Linked DNA regions of Homo sapiens. The protein of the gene in region 1 interacts with the protein of each later gene in a biochemical or structural test. Each region holds a gene or a part of one and is shown on either strand. Other genes may lie near its edges. The genes, in order: STK33, USP5 and HPD.

The links.
Region 2: the proteins of STK33 (region 1) and USP5 form a complex in vitro, tested with the Homo sapiens proteins (one study listed by BioGRID).
Region 3: of the proteins of STK33 (region 1) and HPD, one has a biochemical effect on the other in vitro, tested with the Homo sapiens proteins (one study listed by BioGRID).

The regions. Positions count from the first base shown.
Region 1 is NC_000011.10:8,471,250-8,479,998, forward strand, and holds part of STK33 (serine/threonine-protein kinase 33), read right to left. Parts: exon of another isoform or gene 6,035-8,749; 5' UTR 6,001-6,034; exon of another isoform or gene 5,503-6,000; 5' UTR 5,438-5,502; intron 5,424-5,437; exon of another isoform or gene 4,851-5,423; intron 3,818-4,850; 5' UTR 3,657-3,817; coding exon 3,432-3,656; intron 2,028-3,431; coding exon 1,914-2,027; intron 1-1,913. UniProt on the Homo sapiens protein: Serine/threonine protein kinase required for spermatid differentiation and male fertility. Promotes sperm flagella assembly during spermatogenesis by mediating phosphorylation of fibrous sheath proteins AKAP3 and AKAP4.
Region 2 is NC_000012.12:6,861,293-6,868,024, forward strand, and holds the end of USP5 (ubiquitin carboxyl-terminal hydrolase 5), read left to right. Parts: intron 1-150; coding exon 151-325; intron 326-1,177; coding exon 1,178-1,266; intron 1,267-1,852; exon of another isoform or gene 1,853-1,893; coding exon 1,894-2,085; intron 2,086-2,537; coding exon 2,538-2,681; intron 2,682-2,757; coding exon 2,758-2,903; intron 2,904-3,429; coding exon 3,430-3,583; intron 3,584-3,871; coding exon 3,872-3,956; intron 3,957-4,691; coding exon 4,692-4,785; 3' UTR 4,786-5,340; downstream 5,341-6,732. Other genes in the region: TPI1 (triosephosphate isomerase), read left to right, coding at 6,164-6,389. UniProt on the Homo sapiens protein: Deubiquitinating enzyme that participates in a wide range of cellular processes by specifically cleaving isopeptide bonds between ubiquitin and substrate proteins or ubiquitin itself.
Region 3 is NC_000012.12:121,837,826-121,842,407, forward strand, and holds the end of HPD (4-hydroxyphenylpyruvate dioxygenase), read right to left. Parts: intron 2,224-4,582; coding exon 2,107-2,223; intron 2,014-2,106; coding exon 1,903-2,013; 3' UTR 1,702-1,902; downstream 1-1,701. UniProt on the Homo sapiens protein: Catalyzes the conversion of 4-hydroxyphenylpyruvic acid to homogentisic acid, one of the steps in tyrosine catabolism.

The DNA.
Region 1 (8,749 bases):
GTTTAAATAGGAATTCTAAAATGAGAAATGGCCAACTAGTTTTTTACAAACTAATCACTTTCTTCAACTAACTGCTTTGATATTAACACATAGTGATGAAGGAGAAAACAGTTTCTTATTTCTAATAATTGTGTAAGGATGTTATTAAAATGATAATGTAGATCTATTTTTACTGACACAGAAGAAGTCCATGACATAGTGTACAGTGTGAAAAGCATATAAGATATGATTTCATTATGACAATGTGTGTGTGAGGAGGTGCTTACATGGATATCTGTGAAAATGTTCATCTAAATATTAATAGTAGCTATGTAAGGGTAATAGAATTGTGGATGCTTGTAATTTCCTTCTTTATACTCTTCTGAAATGTTTAAAATATTTAAAATGAGTATATTTTATGGGGGAATAGAAGCTTCAACTTCAACTATACCAAGTTAAAGTTACTTCTTTAAAATATGTATATATATTTGAAATATCCTCTAATTTAAAACAGGAAAAATGTTAAAGAAAAATAAAATAAAACTAGTACATGCATAGAAAAAGTGAAGTTAATAATTTTTAAATTGGTTATATCTGGTTGATAATTTTTATTTTCTCCACACTTATATTTGCCTAATTTTTCACAATGAACATATTTTGCTTTTATAAAAGCTCTTAAGACTAAATTTATTATTTATTTATTTTACTGTTTTTGGAGACAAGGTCTCACTCTGTCGCCCAGGCTAGAATGCAGTGGTATGATCATAGCTCACTGCAGCCTCAAACTTCTGGGCTCAAGTGATACTCACATCTCAGCACCCCACAGTAGCCAGGACTACAGCCGAATGCCTCTATATCCTGCTAATTTTTTAAAAATTTTTTTAGAGAAGGAGTTTTGCTATGTTGCCCAGTCTGGTCTCAAACTCTTGGCCTCAAGTGATCCTCCTTCCTCAGCCTTTCAAAATGCTGAGATTACAGGCATGAGCCATCATGCCTGGCCCAAGACTAAATTTAAAACTTGGTAAACTTGTGTGTGTGTGTGTCAGAGTTTTTCAGGCCAGGCAGCTTTTCTAATCATTTCAAGTAAGTTGCCAAATATCTTTTAAAACAAGTTTTGACATCAGGCTTGATCATTTCTAGCTTTTGATTTAAAGTGAAAGACATGCAACTCTCCCTTTCACTTGAACCACTGTAGGATTATTAATTGGCCTAATTTCAATATTTTTGTGTATCAGGGACTAGGGAGGCCCAAGGAGAGGGAGAGAGATGAAGAGTGGTCAGTCAGCTGAGCAATCAGAACATATACATTTATTAAGTATACCATCTTATATGGGTGCAATTTGTGGTGCCCCAAAGCAATTTAAATGGTAATATTAACACAATTTTCTTCTTGTTGTGGTTGTTCTTATTGCAGTTTCTTTAATGTTAAAAACACACATTTTAATTTTTTTATTGTTCTAACATTTAATTCTTATTTTATATAATAATTTGAATCCTGGAAAAATAGTATTGGTATTTATCCAATCGCAGGATGGAAAAGATGGAGGAGCTCATGAGGGAGATTCTGGCCTCACTATCAAGGAAGTGAACAGCCAAACTAAAATTACCTGGTCCATCTCTGCATCATGAAAAGGTCTAAACAAAGACTCCACTATTGCTTTCAGCAACGGCCAAGACCTGAAGATGAAACTATCCTCATTTTAGCTAATGAAAATGTTCTCCACTTTAATTAAAATCCACTTGGTCCTCCATAAACAGAAGATAATTAATCTGTATTTTCTTTAGTAAAAATGTTAACATACTTGAAAATGGTACATTTCCTCTTTTCTTTACTTCCTTTCCTTAGAGATTTATTTTTCAATCATTTTTCCTATTAACCATTGACTTAGAAGAAACCTGAAAGTTCACAGTAGCTTCATTTGCTTTCTATATACCTCAATAGCAGCTCCATTCTCAATCCTTATGTGAGGAACTTTTCCTTCTGTAAAGTTGCCCCGACCCCATTGTTGCTGAGATGCTTTTCTCTCTACATTTGAGGTTCTTGAGGGCTGGGACCAAAAAAAAAATTAAAAAAAAAAAACTTTAAGATGTAATATTCTTTGTTGACAAAGAATCCTAATTTAGATAATCTGATAACTCTTTAACGTGTGCCATGTTTACTATGCACAAGATTGTTTACTGTCTTTTTCAAATTCTAAGCCCTATGCAATTCATTGGCTCATTAGGCTAAAGGAGACCTTAAGAAGATATTCAATCCAATCCCCTGAATCCAGGAAAGTCTACATGATAACCAGCATAGCAGATTCATCAAAGCTTACCTAGTGATTCTCTGAAATCAAAGAAAGCAACTTTATAGCTTTCTCAATCACTCTCCTTTCACAATTTAACAACCATTATCAAACAGCTTATAAGTAAATTATTGGCCACTCAAAAATATGCTTTGAGTGAAAATAACATAGTAACAACTCACTCAGATACATCCATATGGCAGTAACTATATGATAATACAAATCAGAAATAACAGTCAAGGGAGAACATATGAAGAAGGCAAAATTTTGAGGAATGGGAACCTGACTTTTCTTAGGCTTATTGCTCTGTCTCCAAAGTTGTGCTGTATCAACCACAATCTTACACACTGCCTATTCTATATAAAGATGAATATGGCTGGGCACGGTGGCTCATGCCTGTAATCCCAGCACTTTGGGAGGCCAAGGTGGGTGGATCACCTGAGGTCGGGAGTTCAAGACCAGCCTGACCAACATGGAGAAACCCCCTCTCTACTAAAAATACAAAAAAATTAGCTGGGCATGGTGGTGCATTCCTGTAATCTCAGCTACTCAGGAGGTTGAGCTAGGAAAATCACTTGAACCTAGGAGGCAGAGGTTGTGATGAGCTGAGATTGTGCCATTGCACTCCAGCCAGGGCAACAAGAGCAAAACTCCAATTCAAAAAAAAAAAAATGATGAATACATCGAAATCAGTACAATTGGGTAGCCATAGATTATTTGTAACTAATGCAAACTGATTTTGTAAAGTATAGTTGATATTCCACCTAGACAACCACAACTTAAATAACAAAGCCATAACTACCCTTTACTTAACCACAACTATAAATCTAATTCTCCATCAGTTGAAGAAAATACTCAAAAATTCAGATTTAATTCAACTTGAAAACCAATTCATTTCTGTATAAACCATTAAAAAAAGAAGTTGGTATAACGTGTTTAATTACCTCATGTCCTGAGAAATAATTAATTTGGGCAGTGGTTTGAAACATCATATAACAAGTTACTAACCAAATTTACTCACCTCTTCTGTGAGAAAGAAATGTTTAATAGTTATGAAGGCAATGAATTAGCTAACAAGAACTCATGGGATATGGATGAAGCTAGGAGTACCATTAGGGAACGGGATGTCAACTTGTGCTTAGATGTGGAATCTTTGATATTTACCAAATCTTTCCTGGAGGTTATATCTCTGTTGATATTTTTTTCTTTTTTTCTCTCCAGTGAAATTAAAGATTCTGCACTACCAATGCTTGATGTCTGTGACATTTCCACCACCAAAACTGGAGGAACCCTTGTTTTGCTGGAACATACACAAAGTACATCTTTCTGAGAAGCAGATGAACAGTCGGGGCATTTTGTGGATTTTTTATCTAAGCCACTATCAGCCATTTGTTTAACTCTGCAACAAAAGCAACTTTAAAAATGTTTCCACTGTTTGAGGAAGAAAACCAGGCCAAAAAGGATAAGGTAGTTGATGGTGAAAACTGTAATTTCGAACTGGTGAAGTCCTCAGGTTAAGGATGCACTAGACACATATTCACACGTGAGAGCTGCAGAAAGAAAAGAAATAACCATTTAGAGAAATTCTTAACCTATTACCATCCTGGAAATCAGAGAAAAGCTAGCAACTAGCACTAGAAGCATCCTGTATAGACATGAAAAGGACAAAATAGGACCACAAAACTGGTGAAAAGCATGGTCTAAAACAGCATCTTATCAAACTGCGTAGTGGGTTATGAAATCCATTTTGTGGGTTGATACCACTTTTTAAAAATAAAGTAGAATCAAAGAGATAATATTTAGCATACCTCCTTGGAAATTTCTGTGAAACTTTTAATTGGACAGACATATATGTATAGAGTGTGTGTGTGCGTGTGTACTTGATCACAGTATGAAATGTATTTCTTAATGTGGGTTGTGGTTTTTAAAAAGGCTTAAAATATTGGTGTTAAACATACATTACTATGGTTTCAAATTTTAAACCTTAATCTATTGATTATTAGAGCAAATTCCTATTACATACTTTACAAAGGAGTGAATAATTCGATTTTTAGAAAACTAGCTAATCCTAAAAGTTTAAGTATCCTCATAAGTATCCTCATTTTTATATTGAGCAAAAATAAAAATGAGTGGGTGCTATTTTTCCCTGAGTCTAAAATAGGTATGGCAGCATTTTACTTAACTAGGACCATTGGCAGCTGCATGGTGGCAAGTTGGAAAGATCTCAGTTGAGGAGGAAGAAAAATACACTCTGCAGTACATATAAAGGAGTACTTTGAGAAACTTCCAGAAGTAATTGGGAGTACATTATTATGGTTTTATGCTATACCATTTCAGACAGTCTTTAAAAGTAGATTCTGTAGTCATAGATTGATAAACCTGGGGATATATGCAATATACTGTTATCCTTTGAACTGGAATAAACTTGACTAGAATAGGAAATTAAATATATTTATTTCATTAAAGAAATACCTGGTTTTCTAATCAGAAAGCTGTGCTTTTATCAAATCCTTATCTATTGTGATTGGCAGGAAAATCTGCCAGGCTCATACGATTTTATAAAAGATATTGCTAGTAGTTTACCTAAAAGTTGTCCTCTCATTCTTTCTTACTAACAGAATCCTGATCTTCTTTGGGGCAGCAATGTGCTCATTAACATCCTACATTTCCGGGCTTCTCTTTTAGATTAGGGGTAGCCATGTGACTTATGGCCATTAAGCTTAACAGAATGCAGGCAAAGCTGCACTTAAAAGAAAATTTATATTCTTAAACCTTTATTAAAATCAGAGGAGAAAGGATAAAAATATACTAAGTGTGCAGTCAAATCTAAAAGATAGAAAAACATAATTAAAGAGTAAGCTTAAGAAACAGAAATGACAAAGAAATTTTGTTGAATTTTGCCTATACGGTCCCAAATAAACGTACTCTTCACTACCTCTCAGCTTTCATATCTCCTTTCTCTCAGATACAGTAGCCTCTTGCTGCTCCTCTAATATGCCAAGTATACTCCCTTCTCAAGGCTTTGCCCTTCTGCTTCCTCTGCCTGGGATGCTCTTCCCTCAAACATTCACACGGTCTGCTCCCATGCTTCACTGTGGCTTCTGCTCATTTGAAAGGCTTTCCTAACCACCTCATCTAAAACAACAAGCCCATGCCCTCTCCCCCCTTACCTTGCTTTGTTTTTCTTCATGCCACTTATCATTTCACTCAGGAAGTTTCATAGCAGAGTCCTCTCCTACTTTTATTGAACAGATGATTCTTATATAAATGGTTTCAGAGCATGCAAAGCCATCCGGTTCATTTTATTCACTTAAAATAACCAAAATCTGACCATAGTAGTATTCCCCAAAAGGGGGATTTACAGGTCAGTCTCATTTGTAAATAGATTTTAAAATCCTAAATGCTGTACTTACATTTACCCCAGGTAATGTATATAGTATATTATAAGATTATTAAATAGAATAGATAAGTCTGCCCAATAAATATGACCTTTCATCAAAGTGGTGGGAAAAAAATTTCTATTGTGATTAAAACTCATAATGGAGAGTATGAGGACAGGTACATTAAAAGTGCCCTCCAGACAGGCAGAGGAAGAAAAGAATGCAACTGATGCCACTCAAAATACACACACACACACACACACACACACACACACACACATACACATCTCTTATAAACACTTAACCTGGTTTTTCAAGAATATGTAGCAAGACAAAGAAAATTCAGAATGTACCTGTATCACTTTCCAAAATGATTTAACTTCAGGCCTAGAAGAAAATGTTTTGCATTTCAGGTTAAATATAAAACCCATAACCATCAATGACTCAGAGCAGTGGAGTAGATCTGCAAATGATAGGCTTTCTGTTTGGGAAAAATAGTGCTTTCTCTCTGAGGTGTAGAGAAGTCCCATGTCAGATGTGTAAAACATCATTTTTTGCATACATTAAGAATATTGATTTTATGGTACTTTTTATAAGAAATTGTAAGAAGTATTCGTAACGTACAGGTTTATTTAACTGCAGCTGAGTTCTTTCATGATAAACAGTACTCCTAAAAGCATACTTACCATATCCTTCAAGGTTTACAAATATATATATTCACAAATTTTCAATGGAATCTTTAAATATTAAAATTTTCATTTTAAGATAGATTTTGGGGGATCTAAAAACAGCTATTCTTTTCTTAGCTTTGTTCAGAAAGCATTTCCTTTAATTTTCATCAATTTTTCAATAAGTCATTATCATATCACTGACATTGTCACAGACTTCTGAGTACTTTCTCGCTCCAGTCTTCTAATTTATCAGTTGCCTTAGAAGTACTTGGTAGCTATATGCATAAAGCATAGGATTTCTTTCTATTACTCACTGAGAAGTTTCATTTTTGCTCTCCAGTCTACCAAGTGCTATATTTGCCAAAATAATGTTCTACTTTCTTACCACAGCAATTCTAAAACAACAGGTTGAATAGCTGCATGCAAAATTTCTTGACAAGAATTAGATTTCAAATTTAACTTCTTTTTGGCTGGCTGAATTCTAATTATTTTAGTTTAAACAAAAACCAAGATAGAACAAATGTTTACTCACATTTATTTCTTTCTCATTTACGAATTGATCTGAAAGATTTGTTACTAAAACAAATCTACTATTTCACAGGACAAATGATGTCACTCATATTTTAGAGGCTTAAAATTAATCAAGTATTGCAAACTTATGTAAACACAAAGATTAATAGCTCTTTTTCTATAGAATCATGGAATTATGTTTAAACAGGACTTTAGATATAAAAATATGTATTACAAAAACCAAAGAATCTTCTAATACAATAATGTTTCTTTGTGTCTCCAAAGATTGGACATACATAGGTACTGGACATAATATAAGCAAATAAAATAAGTTCAAATTATGTCAGTACTTAACTAATACATGAGCCTTCCTTTGGCTTAAGGTTTTCATTTTATTTTTAGAACTAAGGCAAGTCAATAAAACAATTCTGATAATGAAAATCCCTGGGCTTTAATTTAATCATAAAAAGGTCTTTTACATATTGGCCCTAGAAGATACACTTACAGCAATTTCCTCAAGAAAATGAACACAAGAATGGTTTTATAAGATATAACTAGCTATAATTTTCTTCTCCAAAAGCAATTTTTTTAGTTTTCTTTGCTAAGACTGTGTCTACAAGAAACCTAAATAGTCAATTCAGTCAAAATGTGTTTTATTCAAGTAAAGGGGAAAAAAAAAAAAACTTACGAATTGTCTGACATTCTGCAGACCAAGCCAAATGACTGACTGCTTTAGTAACATGTTTACAAAGCCTAAAGAAGGGCCCAGTGAGTTTTCTAGATGATATTGCTATATTTTAAGGAAGACTAGCACTTGTTTATTCTTTTCATTAAGGGCATGATTAGGAAAATGAGTCTGTATTGTCTTATAAAAGGATTTACAGTATATTTAAAATTCACATTATTTCAGAATTTTTTTAAATGTTTGAGTGATGTTTACTATTAACTTTTCCTTTCTATTTTAATTTGCATGATGTTCCTCACTGATTAAGCAGTAATACGGAAGGACAGTCTTAAATGTGGCCCCTATACTGACAGTTAAAAGCGAGAACAGAGGCCGGGTGCGGTGGCTCACGCCTGTAATCCCAGCACTTTGGCAGGCTGAGGCGGGTGGATCACAAGGTCAGATCGAGACCATCCTGGCCAACATCCTGACCAACCTGGGGTTTTAGTAGAGAAACCCCATCTCTACTAAAAATACAAAAATTAGCTGGGTGTGGTGGCATGCACCTGTAATCCCGGCTACTAGGGAGGCTGAGGCAGGAGAATCGCTTGAACCCAGAAGGCGGAGATTGCAGTGAGCCAAGATCATGCCACTGCACTCCAGCCTGGCAACAGAGCTAGACTCCGTCTCAAAAAAAAAAAAAAAGCGAGAACAGAAATTGCAGTTTAGAGACAGTGGATAAACCAGGAAACCCTCTCCCTGATTCTTCCCTGTTGATATCAGTCTTTTCTCCCTCTCCATTATAAGCAACCAGAAGCTGGCCAGGCACAGTGGTTCACGCCTATAACCCCAACACTTTGGGAGGCGGAGGCAGGCCGATCACTTGCAGTCAGGAGTTCGAGATCAGCCTGGCCAATATGGTGAAACCCCGTCTCTACAAAAAATACAAAAATTAGCCAGTCGTGGTGGTGTGCTCCTGTAGTCCCAGCTACTCAGGAGGCTGAGGTTGGAAAATCGTTTGAACCCAGGAGGCAGAGGTTGCAGTGAGCTGAGATCGCACCACTGCACTCTAGCCTGGGTGACAGAGTAAGACTCTGTCTCAAAAAAAATAACAAATAAAAAAATAAGCAACCAGAAGCCAAGGACCTTTCTCCAGCACAGGCCCTTCCTTATACATAATAGGCACTCAATGAAAATTTTTGAGTGTTGATTTTGTGGAAAAGAGCCAGAATCACAAATCATTTAGTTAGAAAAACA
Region 2 (6,732 bases), on another chromosome or scaffold:
ATGGAAACAGGCGAGATATATTGGACATGTGTCAGGGGTGCTTTGGAAGGGTAGAGGAACTGAAATACGGACACAGAGCCAGTAGGGAGAGGCTAAGGAGGCAAAGAAGCAGCACCCTCCGAAGGATCCACCAACCCATTCTGTCACCAGAGGAGCTTCTGGAGTACGAGGAGAAGAAGCGGCAAGCCGAAGAGGAGAAGATGGCACTGCCAGAACTGGTTCGGGCCCAGGTGCCCTTCAGCTCTTGCCTGGAGGCCTACGGGGCCCCTGAGCAGGTCGATGACTTCTGGAGCACGGCCCTGCAGGCCAAGTCAGTAGCTGTCAAGTAAGTCCTCTGGTCGGGGCCTGAGGCTGTGGGTCTATGGCAGAGCTATCCCAGAGGATACTTCTGTCTCTTCCCTGTTCTTTCATCCCTTTGTGGTTGGAACCTCAGGGTTGAATCAGTTGGGCTGGTAATCTGGCCCTGATGGAACCAAGGGGCCCTGGTAGGGGGGACACGGGTACTGACTCTATCTGTCACCTTGTCCTGCCCCAACCACTCCCTCTTCTGTGGCACAGGGTCTCTTTGTAGTGTAGCCTCTCTTCATTGCCCCTCAGTCATGGCTGAGCACAGGCACTTAGGATCAGCTGTGGGCAGAATTTGGATTTCCAGCAAATAGCCACACTTTGAGCCTAGCCATTGGCACCTGGCATGGGTGTGAGACCTGAAAAAGGGCTTTGGTCTCGGGGAGTCAGCTACCCAGCCCTTTGCTGCTCCTGCCAGTGAAACAGCTCTTCCTCTCTGTGTGGGTTTTTTTTTTTTTTCTATGTGTGGGTCTTGCTATGTTTTTTTCCCTACGTGTGGGTCTTGCTATGTTGCCCAGGTTGGTCTCTTAACTCCTGGGCTCAAGCAGTCGTCCTGCCTTGGCCTCCCAAAGTGCTGGAATTACAGATATGAGCCACCATGCCTGGGCTTTTTTCTTTTTCTTTTTTTTGTTGACAGCCTTCCTTCTGGCCTCTACTGCTCCTCGTTGGCCGAGGACAGGCATCAGACACCTGCCCAGGGGAAGAGAAGAATATGGAGGATCTTCTGGGTTATTGGGACTTCTACCCATGAGGGGCTGAACCCCAGGTGGGAGTTTCAGGAGAGGAAAACCCTGGGGATTGTCTGGGTACCAGCACAGTCTCTCTTCCCTAGGACCACACGATTTGCCTCATTCCCTGACTACCTGGTCATCCAGATCAAGAAGTTCACCTTCGGCTTAGACTGGGTGCCCAAGAAACTGGGTATGGCTGCTGGAATGAGGGAGGTTACACAGAAAATGCTAGAAAAAGAAGGGGCTTTAACACATATAAACTAGTGTTTCTCAAAGTTTCCTCTGAAAGAGGAAAAAAAATCACCTTCAATGTTTCAAAATTTATCTAGTTTGAAAGCACTAACTAAAAATATTAAAAGACTTCTTTGATTGTTATAGGTATGATTTACAACCAAAAGTGATTTTTGTAGTTTTTTAAAATAATTGGTAAAATGTTTTCATTTTGATAATCTTGAAACAATTAATTCTCGTGAGTCTTACAGGTCCCTGACTGTCATTTGAGAACTCGTGATGTACCTTCATTTTCTAGATAAGGAAGTTGAGACTCACAGGAATATAAAATCATTCTGTCTCACAAGTTCTAGGCCCCCTGCCCTGTCCATAGATTATTTATGGTAGATCTAGGACCAGCATCCTGGCCTCCCAACTCCCAGGCTTAGTATTATTTGTCTTATACTGGGACCCCTAAGATGGGTGCCGTGCTTTTAGCAGCTCCTCTTTACAGAGCAGTTCTGACATAGGGGGCAGGGGATTGAGGTTCCCGAATCACTTTCCAGGTAGGCCTCCGGGAGCTGCTGAGGTGACCCTTTTCCCACAGATGTGTCCATCGAGATGCCAGAGGAGCTCGACATCTCCCAGTTGAGGGGCACAGGGCTGCAGCCCGGAGAGGAGGAGCTGCCAGACATTGCCCCACCCCTGGTCACTCCGGATGAGCCCAAAGGTAGCCTTGGTTTCTATGGCAACGAAGACGAAGACTCCTTCTGCTCCCCTCACTTCTCCTCTCCGACATGTTAGTGACTCTTCTTCCTGCCTGTCTCTCTCCCGTGCTGATGGGGGCCTCTCTGCCTTGCATCCCCTGCCCCTGTCCTTTGTGTTTCTCCTGTCCTCCCTTTCAAATTTCCTCTGCCCTCTTTGATTGACATGGGGCCTCCCCAGCGCACTCCTAGCCACCTTCTGGGTGTGGATGGCAGCAGTGCCAGCTAGTGGCCTCTCTGCCCTTGTTACCTCCCTGGTTTGGGTAGGGTGGGGGTATCATGCTCCAGAAACAGGGCCCATTCTGTGAGAATGGGCAGGGACCCACATTACAATTGTGTGGTCATTTTGGTTTTGGGATAAGGTGCCAATCCATGGGAGAAAAATGCATGGAATGGGTGATTGGAAGAGGGCTGGGTCCTGGGGGAGGGAGGAGGAGCAAACAGTGGCCCAATCAGTCGGTCCGTGTACCCACAATTCCCATTACAGCGCCCATGCTGGATGAATCAGTCATCATCCAGCTGGTGGAGATGGGATTCCCTATGGACGCCTGCCGCAAAGCTGTCTACTACACGGGCAACAGCGGGGCTGAGGCCGCCATGAACTGGGTCATGTCACACATGGATGATCCAGGTAGGCTGGGGTGGGGAGCAGGGTGGGGCAGGGCCTCCATCCTCCCCCAAACACATCAACCCCTTCACATCCACAGATTTTGCAAACCCCCTCATCCTGCCTGGCTCTAGTGGGCCGGGCTCCACAAGCGCAGCAGCCGACCCCCCTCCTGAGGACTGTGTGACCACCATTGTCTCCATGGGCTTCTCCCGGGACCAGGCCTTGAAAGCGCTGCGGGCCACGGTATGGGCTGCCCCAGCTAAGGACATGGGGCCAGTGGGGAAGAAGGGGGTGGGAATGAGGGGCCATCCTTCTTGAGCAAGACCAAAGACAACAGGTGTGGTCTGGCCGAGGTTGGGCACCACTCTTTTGTGGCTGCGATGAAGGAGCTGAAGCCTGCGTTCACTGCTGGGTTTTTTGCCCCAGAACTTGTTAAAAATGTAATGCTTCTGTTTGGCCGGGCGCGGTGGCTCACGCCTGTAATCCCAGCACTTTGGGAGGGTGAGGTGGGCGGATCACGCGGTCAGCAGATCAAGACCATCCTGGCTAACACGGTGAAACCCCGTCTCTACGAAAAATACAAAAAATTAACCAAGCGTGGTGGTGGGCGTCTGTAGTCCCAGCTACTTGGGAGGCTGAGGCAGGAGAAAGGCGTGAACCCGGGAGGCGGAGCTTGCAGTGAGCCGAGATCGCGCCACTGCACTCCAGCCTGGGCGACAGAGCAAGACTCCGTCTCAAGAAAAAAAGTAATGCTTCCTTCCTCTCCAAGAACAATAGTTTAGAACGGGCTGTGGACTGGATCTTCAGTCACATTGACGACCTGGATGCTGAAGCTGCCATGGACATCTCAGAGGGCCGCTCAGCTGCCGACTCCATCTCTGAGTCTGTGCCAGTGGGACCTAAAGTCCGGGATGGTCCTGGAAGTGAGTATCCCCAGGAAGCAGGACAGGCCTGGTGGAATCTGGTCAGTCTACTACACCAGATCCCTCATTCAGGCAGCTCTGCCCTCCTCAGGAGTCAGGGGCTTCTTTCCACCTCAACGTGGCATCTGAGGGTGGGGTTCTCTGACATGGAGACAGGCTCTGGCCCAGTACCTGCCTCACATTCCCTGAAACTCCTGTCCTGAGTCTGAGCTGTTGTCTGGATCTTTGGGCCATCACTCAAGCATTCCTCTTCTGTTTCCTTCTCTGACCCCCTCTCTCCTTTCCTAGAGTATCAGCTCTTTGCCTTCATTAGTCACATGGGCACCTCTACCATGTGTGGTCACTACGTCTGCCACATCAAGAAAGAAGGCAGGTGAGTGCTGGCCACATGCGTTTTGAATGGAGAATGGTGGTGGGAATGAGGAGGGCCATTTGGAAGTCCTTGGGATAGCTATGGGAGAAGGTGAAGGGACTGCCTGATGGGGACATAAAGTGCCAGAGAGTGACAGAAGGTCTTGCAGCAGTGATTGGCCCAAGGGTTGGATCTGGCCACCAGCTTTTTTTTTAAATAGAGATGGGATCTCACTATGTTGCCCAGGCTGGTCTTGAACTCCTGAGCTCAAGTGATCCTTCTGCCTCGGCCTCCCAAAGTGCTAGGATTACAGGCATGAGCTACCGTGCCTGGCCAGGCCCCCTGCCTTTGTAAATAAATTTTCACTGGAACCTGGACACACTTGTTTATGTGTTGTTTGTGCCTGTTTTCACGCTGCGGCAGGAAAGTTGAGTCGTTGTGTCAGAGACCAGAGAGAGAGCCTGCAGAACCTCAAATACTATCTGGCCCTTGCCAGAAAAAGTTTACCAACCCCCTGCCTCCCTGGAATGGGTGGAGGGTGGTTGTAAAGGTACTGGAGGATCTGAAGACATAATAGGGTCCGTGACCCTTGTGAGGTTGTGAAGCTCCCTTAAGGCACATGGTGGCTGGGCTGTGGATTTGGGGTATGGGCAGAGAGTGTGGAGAGCACTTCCAGGGGCCATGTCTGAGAGACTACATGATGCCACTTTGAATGCCCAGTTTGTTCATCCTTTTCTGTTTTCCCCACTTCCCCAGATGGGTGATCTACAATGACCAGAAAGTGTGTGCCTCCGAGAAGCCGCCCAAGGACCTGGGCTACATCTACTTCTACCAGAGAGTGGCCAGCTAAGAGCCTGCCTCACCCCTTACCAATGAGGGCAGGGGAAGACCACCTGGCATGAGGGAGAGGGGCTGAGGGATGGACTTCAGCCCCTCTGCTCTGTACCCTTTTTCCTTTTGTCCCCGGCAGCAGGGAAGAAGCTGGAGGCCGTGGGAGAATGGCTGGGCAGAGCAGAGGGGCAGCGATAGACTCTGGGGATGGAGCAGGACGGGGACGGGAGGGGCCGGCCACCTGTCTGTAAGGAGACTTTGTTGCTTCCCCTGCCCCCGGAATCCACAGTGCTCTGCTTCTCTGTGTCGCCCCGCCCAGCCCCCTGGTGTGGAGGGAGGGGTCTCGTTTGTGCGCGTGGGTGTAGCTTTGTGCATCCTCTCCCAGTGGAGCGATCACCTGTGCCTCCCCTCCCCCTTTGTTTGCCCCTGTGTGGTTGGTCAAGGAGGGATGTGAGGGAAATAGGGACCCCCCGACTTGCCCTCCTGCCTCAGTCTTTCCCCCACCCTGTCTCTTCCTTGTCCTTCTCTGGAAAATGCCAAAATACACGATGTGAATAAAAGTACAACGGCTAAATTGTGTCCTGTTTGATACCTTGGGGGAGAGGCTTACCTTCCTGGGGTTAGCAGGAGGGCGCTTAAGAAAACTCCTAACTCTGGCCGCCTCCCTGCCAAAGTCAAGTCTCCACTTTTCACTGGTTCTAGAGCTCTAGGAAAATTGGGGTTGGGTGGGGAGGTGGAGTAGAGTGACTAAATGCCGACACAAAGCCAAGGAAAGATGGAGTGAAGAACCCTTCCCTCTCTTTATTCACACAGGAGTGGAGGATTTCCCAAATGTCCCTAACTGGCTAGCTGGCTTCAGGCTGGGACTCAGTCCCTGCAGTTCCTGCCAGGCCTTGCCAGCCGGGGCGAGGGTTGGGATGATCCTGGCGGCCTATGCCTGTGTGGGCTGCCCCTCCCGCTGTGAACCCTGCATTTGTCCCGCAAGTTTTCACTCAGGTAGACTCCCTGGGTACAAGGGTGCCTGCTCAGCAGTCGGGCATGAGCTGCTCCGATGGGCGAAGGAGGTTGTCTATCCCACAGTTGGAGAGGGGCCCTCTCTGCCCCAGTGGGCGATCTGGGCTACGGCCAAGTTGCCACCAGCTAGTTCCGCTTGAAAACCACTTCTGGCCCCGTGGGGGACTCAAGTCGCCAAGCGAGGGTTCCCCTGAGCGCCGGAGCTCACAGGTCTCGCCTTGTCCCGAAAGCCCCGCAATCGAGGCGGAGGCGACCGAGCCCCCGACTCTCCTAGAACGTTGCCACAAGAAGGGGGAACGTCGGAACAGTGCATCATCGGGCGGCGGCCGGGGCGGCGGCAGGAGGGCGGGCGGGGGGCAGGGCTCCGGGGGACTGGGCGGGCCATGGCGGAGGACGGCGAGGAGGCGGAGTTCCACTTCGCGGCGCTCTATATAAGTGGGCAGTGGCCGCGACTGCGCGCAGACACTGACCTTCAGCGCCTCGGCTCCAGCGCCATGGCGCCCTCCAGGAAGTTCTTCGTTGGGGGAAACTGGAAGATGAACGGGCGGAAGCAGAGTCTGGGGGAGCTCATCGGCACTCTGAACGCGGCCAAGGTGCCGGCCGACACCGGTAAGCCCTCGCCGAGGAGGGGTCTGGCCGGGCCGGGGCCGGGGCCGGGGCAGGAGTGGCAGCGCCCTCTCCCGAGGCCCCGAGGCCCCGAGGCCGGTATCCGCGCGGACCTGATGCAGGGCTGTGGGACGAGGGCCGCTGGGGTCCGGGCAGGGGCCTCGCAGCCGCAGCCCCGTCGGTGCGTCGAGGGGGCAGGGCGGAGCACATGATGCCCCTTGGACTATGGGGCAGGTAAGGACGTTTTGGGTCTCCTGGAGGAAGGTGGCCCCGGGGCGCGCACTGGGGCTGTGCCCGCCAGGCGACGGGGTTAGGAGCGGAGCCCGAGGCTCTGCGGGAGACCGGG
Region 3 (4,582 bases), on another chromosome or scaffold:
TCCAGCACTTTGGAAGGCTGAGGTGGGCGGATCACCTGAGACCAGGAATTCGAGACTGGCCAACATAGTGAGATCCCATCTCCATGAAAAATAAAAACAAAATTAGCTGGGCGTGGTGGCACATGCCTATAGTCCCAGCTACTTGGGAGGCTGAGGTAGGAGGATCACCTGAGCTCAGAAGGTGGAGGTTGCAGTAAGCCAAGAGCACACCACTGCACTCCAGCCTGAGCAATGGAGTGAGACTCTGTCTAAAAAAAAAAAAAAAAGAGAGAAAAAGAAAAAAAAAAGAGGCCAAATTTGCCCACCACCAACTCTTACCTGGTTTTGAAGAAAGAATCTCCTTCCTAGGGTTTTAGGACCCAGCTGCCTCATTCTTTTGCAAGGATCACTCACTCTTCTATGAGTATGAACAAGCCCCTTTCCAAAAGAAGTCCTCACTGCGGGCAAGGCTGGGGCAGTGCAGCTGCGTGGGTGGTCATGGGCACTGCCCTGCTGAGGGCAGGGACTGGGATACCAGGCCCCTCCTACCTGCTTTATCTCTGAGACCAGGAACCAAGGGACCATATCCTACAGTTGATGAGCAGGGATGCTGCCCCTAGAGTCCCTTGTCTAACACTCTCCCCTCTCCTGTGTTCAGAGGTTTGGGCTCTGGGTAGCAAAACTGAAGACAGCTCATCTTTAGAGATCATCGGCCGGGCGCGGTGGCTCACGCCTGTAATCCCAGCACTTTGGGAGGCCGAGACCATCCTGGCTAACAAGGTGAAACTCCGTCTCTGCTAAAAATACAAAAAATTAGCCGGGCGTGGTGGCGGGCGCCTGTAGTCCCAGCTACTCGGGAGGCTGAGGCAGGAGAATGGCGTGAACCCGGGAGGCGGAGCTTGCAGTGAGCCGAGATCGCACCACTGCACTCCAGCCTGGGGGACAGAGCGAAACTCCGTCTCAACAACAACAAAAAGAGATCATCAAGCCGGCAGACAAGATGCTGCCAAACTCTGACCCCACCTCAGGGCCTTTCTCCGTTCGCTCTTCCTGGAATCCTTTTCCCGAGCATGGTCCCATGGCTGGCTCCCAAATGTCACCTTCTCGGAGAGGTCTTCCGTTATCAAAATTAGCTCCCCTGCGATCTTCGCTTCCACATATTCTCATCAACTGCCTTTTTTTTTTTTGAGACAGGGTCTCACTCTTGCCCAGGCTGGAGTGCAGTGTCAGGATCAGGGCTCGCTGCAGCTTAGACCTCTGTCCATCAATCGATCCTCCCACCTCAGCCTCCTGAGTAGCTGGGACCACAGGTGTGCGCCACTACGCCAGGCTAATTTTTATTTGTTATTTGTGTAGACGCAGGGGGGTCGGGGTCTTGCTATGTTACCGGGCTGGGCTCGAACTCCTGGCCTCAAGCGATCCTCCCACCTCTGCCTCCCAAAGCGCTGAAATTACAGGTGTGAGCCACCACGCCCGGCTCATCGCTTGCTTTATTGTCTGAATCGCGTTTATCTCTCTACAAAAGCAGTGTCATCCGTCTTTCCCTCCAGAGCAAGTCCCCTTCCTTCCCTGGTTCCAGAATTCCCCTCTCCGCGTGGTCCCGCTGGCAAAGCGCTGGCACCCGCAGCTCCTCGGTCCCGCGGCGCTGGCGGCCGCCCTGGCCTCCCCCTGGCTGCCATAAGGCACTACTGCCTTATGCGCAACACAAACACAGACACAGTATTGGACCGGGGCACGCTTTAATCGGGAGGGCTGGAGCAGAGGGCGGCCCCGCCGAGGGGCGTGGTCAGTGTGGGCGGAGCCTTGGGGGCCGAGTCCGCTGGTGGGCGGGACCCAAGGGGAGCAGCCAGTAGGGAAGTTGGGCGAGTTCCAGAATCAGGGGGCGTGGCTGTGTGGCTGTGGCCTCCGTGGGGTGGGCGGGGCTTACATGCCGGGCACCACCCCATTGGTCTCCATGTTGGTGAGGTTACCCCGCAGGTTCTGCTCCTCCTCGAAAGCCTTGAACAGTGAGTTGAAGTTGCCGGCTCCAAAACCCTGTGGCGGGAAAGAGAGGAGATGAGCCAAGGACCCAGAAAACCGAGTGTGCTAGCTGCCTGTCCCCTCGGGCCTGCCGGGGACAAGCAGTACCTGGTGGTTGTGGCGCTGGATGACTTCCAGGAAGAGCGTGGGCCGGTCCTGCACCGGTTTGGTGAAGATCTGCAGGAGGTAGCCTTTCTCGTCGTAGTCCACCAGGATTTTCAGCTCCTAGGCGGGAGACAGGGGGCTCTGCTAGGGGAGGCTGGCACGGTGAGATCCTTGGAAAGTCCACAGGGGCTCCTGCACCCCAAAAGTCTGGAAATGACCTCTTTTTCTGGCAGTTCAGCCACCTCCAAATATATCCCCAAACTGTCCTATTACTATCCCCCTACTACAGTTCCTAAGGCACCATTCAAGACTGCTGCCCGCTTCTAATCTTGTATCCTTACAATCCATCCTCCCCGCAGACATTATCAGGACACTTTCTTTTTCTTTTTTGAGACGGAGCCTTGCGCTGTTACCCAGGCTGGAGTGCGGTGGCGCAATCTTGGCTCACTGAAACCTCCGCCTTCCGGGTTCAAGCGATTCTCCTGTCTCAGCCTCCCGAGTAGCTGGGACTACAGGCGCAGGCTACCATGCCCGGCTAATTTTTGTATTTTTAGTAAGACGGGGTTTCACGATATTGGTCAGGCTGGTCTCGAACTCCTGACCTCAGGTGATCCACCCACCTCGACCTCCCAAAGTGTTGGGATTACAGGCGTGAGCCACCATGACCTGCTGCGGGATCTTTTAAAAGTCGGATCATGTCATTCCCCTGTTTAAAATCCTCCAGTGGAAATCGGAACCCTCATGTACTGCTGGTGGGACTGTAAAATGGTGCAACCACTTTGGAAAACAGTCTGGCAGCTTCTCAAAAAGTTAAACATATAGTGTTGCTTCCTTAAAATACGGATTAAAAAAAAAAAAGGGGGTGGCCAGGCATGGTGGCTCACTTTGGGAGGCCGAGGCAGGTGGATCACCTGAGCTCAGTTCGAGACCAGCCTGGCCAACATGGGGAAACCCAGTCACTACAAAAAAAAATACAAAAATTAGGCTGGGCAAGGTGGCTCACGCCTGTAATCCCAGCACTCTGGGAGGCTGAGGTGAGTGAATCACCCGAGGTCAGGAGTTCGAGACCAGCCTGGCCAACATGGTGAAACCCCATCTCTACTAAAAATAAAAATAAAAATAAATTGGCTGGGCATGGTGGCACACGCCTGTTATCCCAGCTACTCAGGAGGCAGAGGCAGGAGAATCGCTTGAACCCGGGAAGTGGAGGTTGCAGTGAGCCAAGATCGGCCACTGCTCTCCAGCCTGGGCAACAGAGCAAGACTCTGTCTCAAAAAAAAAAAAAAAAAAATTAGCTGGGCGTGGTGGCGGGCGCCTATAATCCCAGCTACTGGGGAGGCTGAGGCAGGAGAATTGCTTGAACCCAGGAGGCTGGAGGTTGCAATGGGCCAAGATCGCACCACTGCACCCCAGCCTGGGAAACAAAGCAAGACTCCATCTCTAAACAAACAAAAGGGAACATGGAATTACCATGTGACCTAGCTACTCCTAGATATATTCCAAAGTGCATTGAAAACACGTCCACACAGAGCCTTGTACATAGATGTTCACAGTAGCATTACGTATAACACCCCAAAAGTGGAAACAACCCAAATATCTATCAACGAGGAATAGATAAACAATGTGTGTCTATCTATACAATGGGATATTTTTCAGCCACAAAAAGGAACGAAGCACTGACACACACCCCACGCAGATGAACCTTGAGCACATGCTATGGGAAAGAAGCTGCTCACAATAGGCCTATTTTGTGATTCCTTTTTTTTTTTTTCCGAGATGGAGTTTCACTCTGTCGCCCAGGCTGGAGTGCAATGGCGCGATCTCGGCTCACTGCAACCTCCCCTTCCCTGGGTTCAAGCAATTCTCCGGCCTCAGGCTCCCCAGTAGCTGGGATTACAGGCATCTGCTATCACACCCAGCTAATTTTTGTATTTTTAGTAGAGACAGGGTTTCACCATGTTGGCCAGGCTGGTCTTGAACTCCTGACCTCATGATCCGCCCACCTCAGCCTCCCAAAGTGCTGGGATTACAGGCATGAGCCACCGTGCCTGGACTTTGTGATTCCTTTTGATGAAATGTCCAGAATAGGCAAATCTATAGAGACTGAAGGTAGATTAATGGTGCCTAGGGCTGGGGTGGGAGGGGGGAAGGGAACAGAGGGGGTTGGGAGGTGCTGGCTAAGAGGCTCAAGGTTTCTTTTTGGGGTGACAAAAATGTTCTAAAATTGATTTTTTGCCCAGGCTGGAATGCAGTAGCCTGATCATGGCTCACTGCAGCTTTGACCTCCTGGCCTCAAGTGATCCTCTCACCTCAGCCTCCTGAGTAGCTGGGACTACAGGCACGAACCACCATGCCCAGCTAATTTTTTAAAACTGTTTTTTTTGTAGATACAGGGTCGCCCTGTGTTTCTCAGGCTGGTCTTAAACTCCTGGCCTCAAGCAATCCTCTCACTTCAACCTCCCAAAATGCTGGGATTATA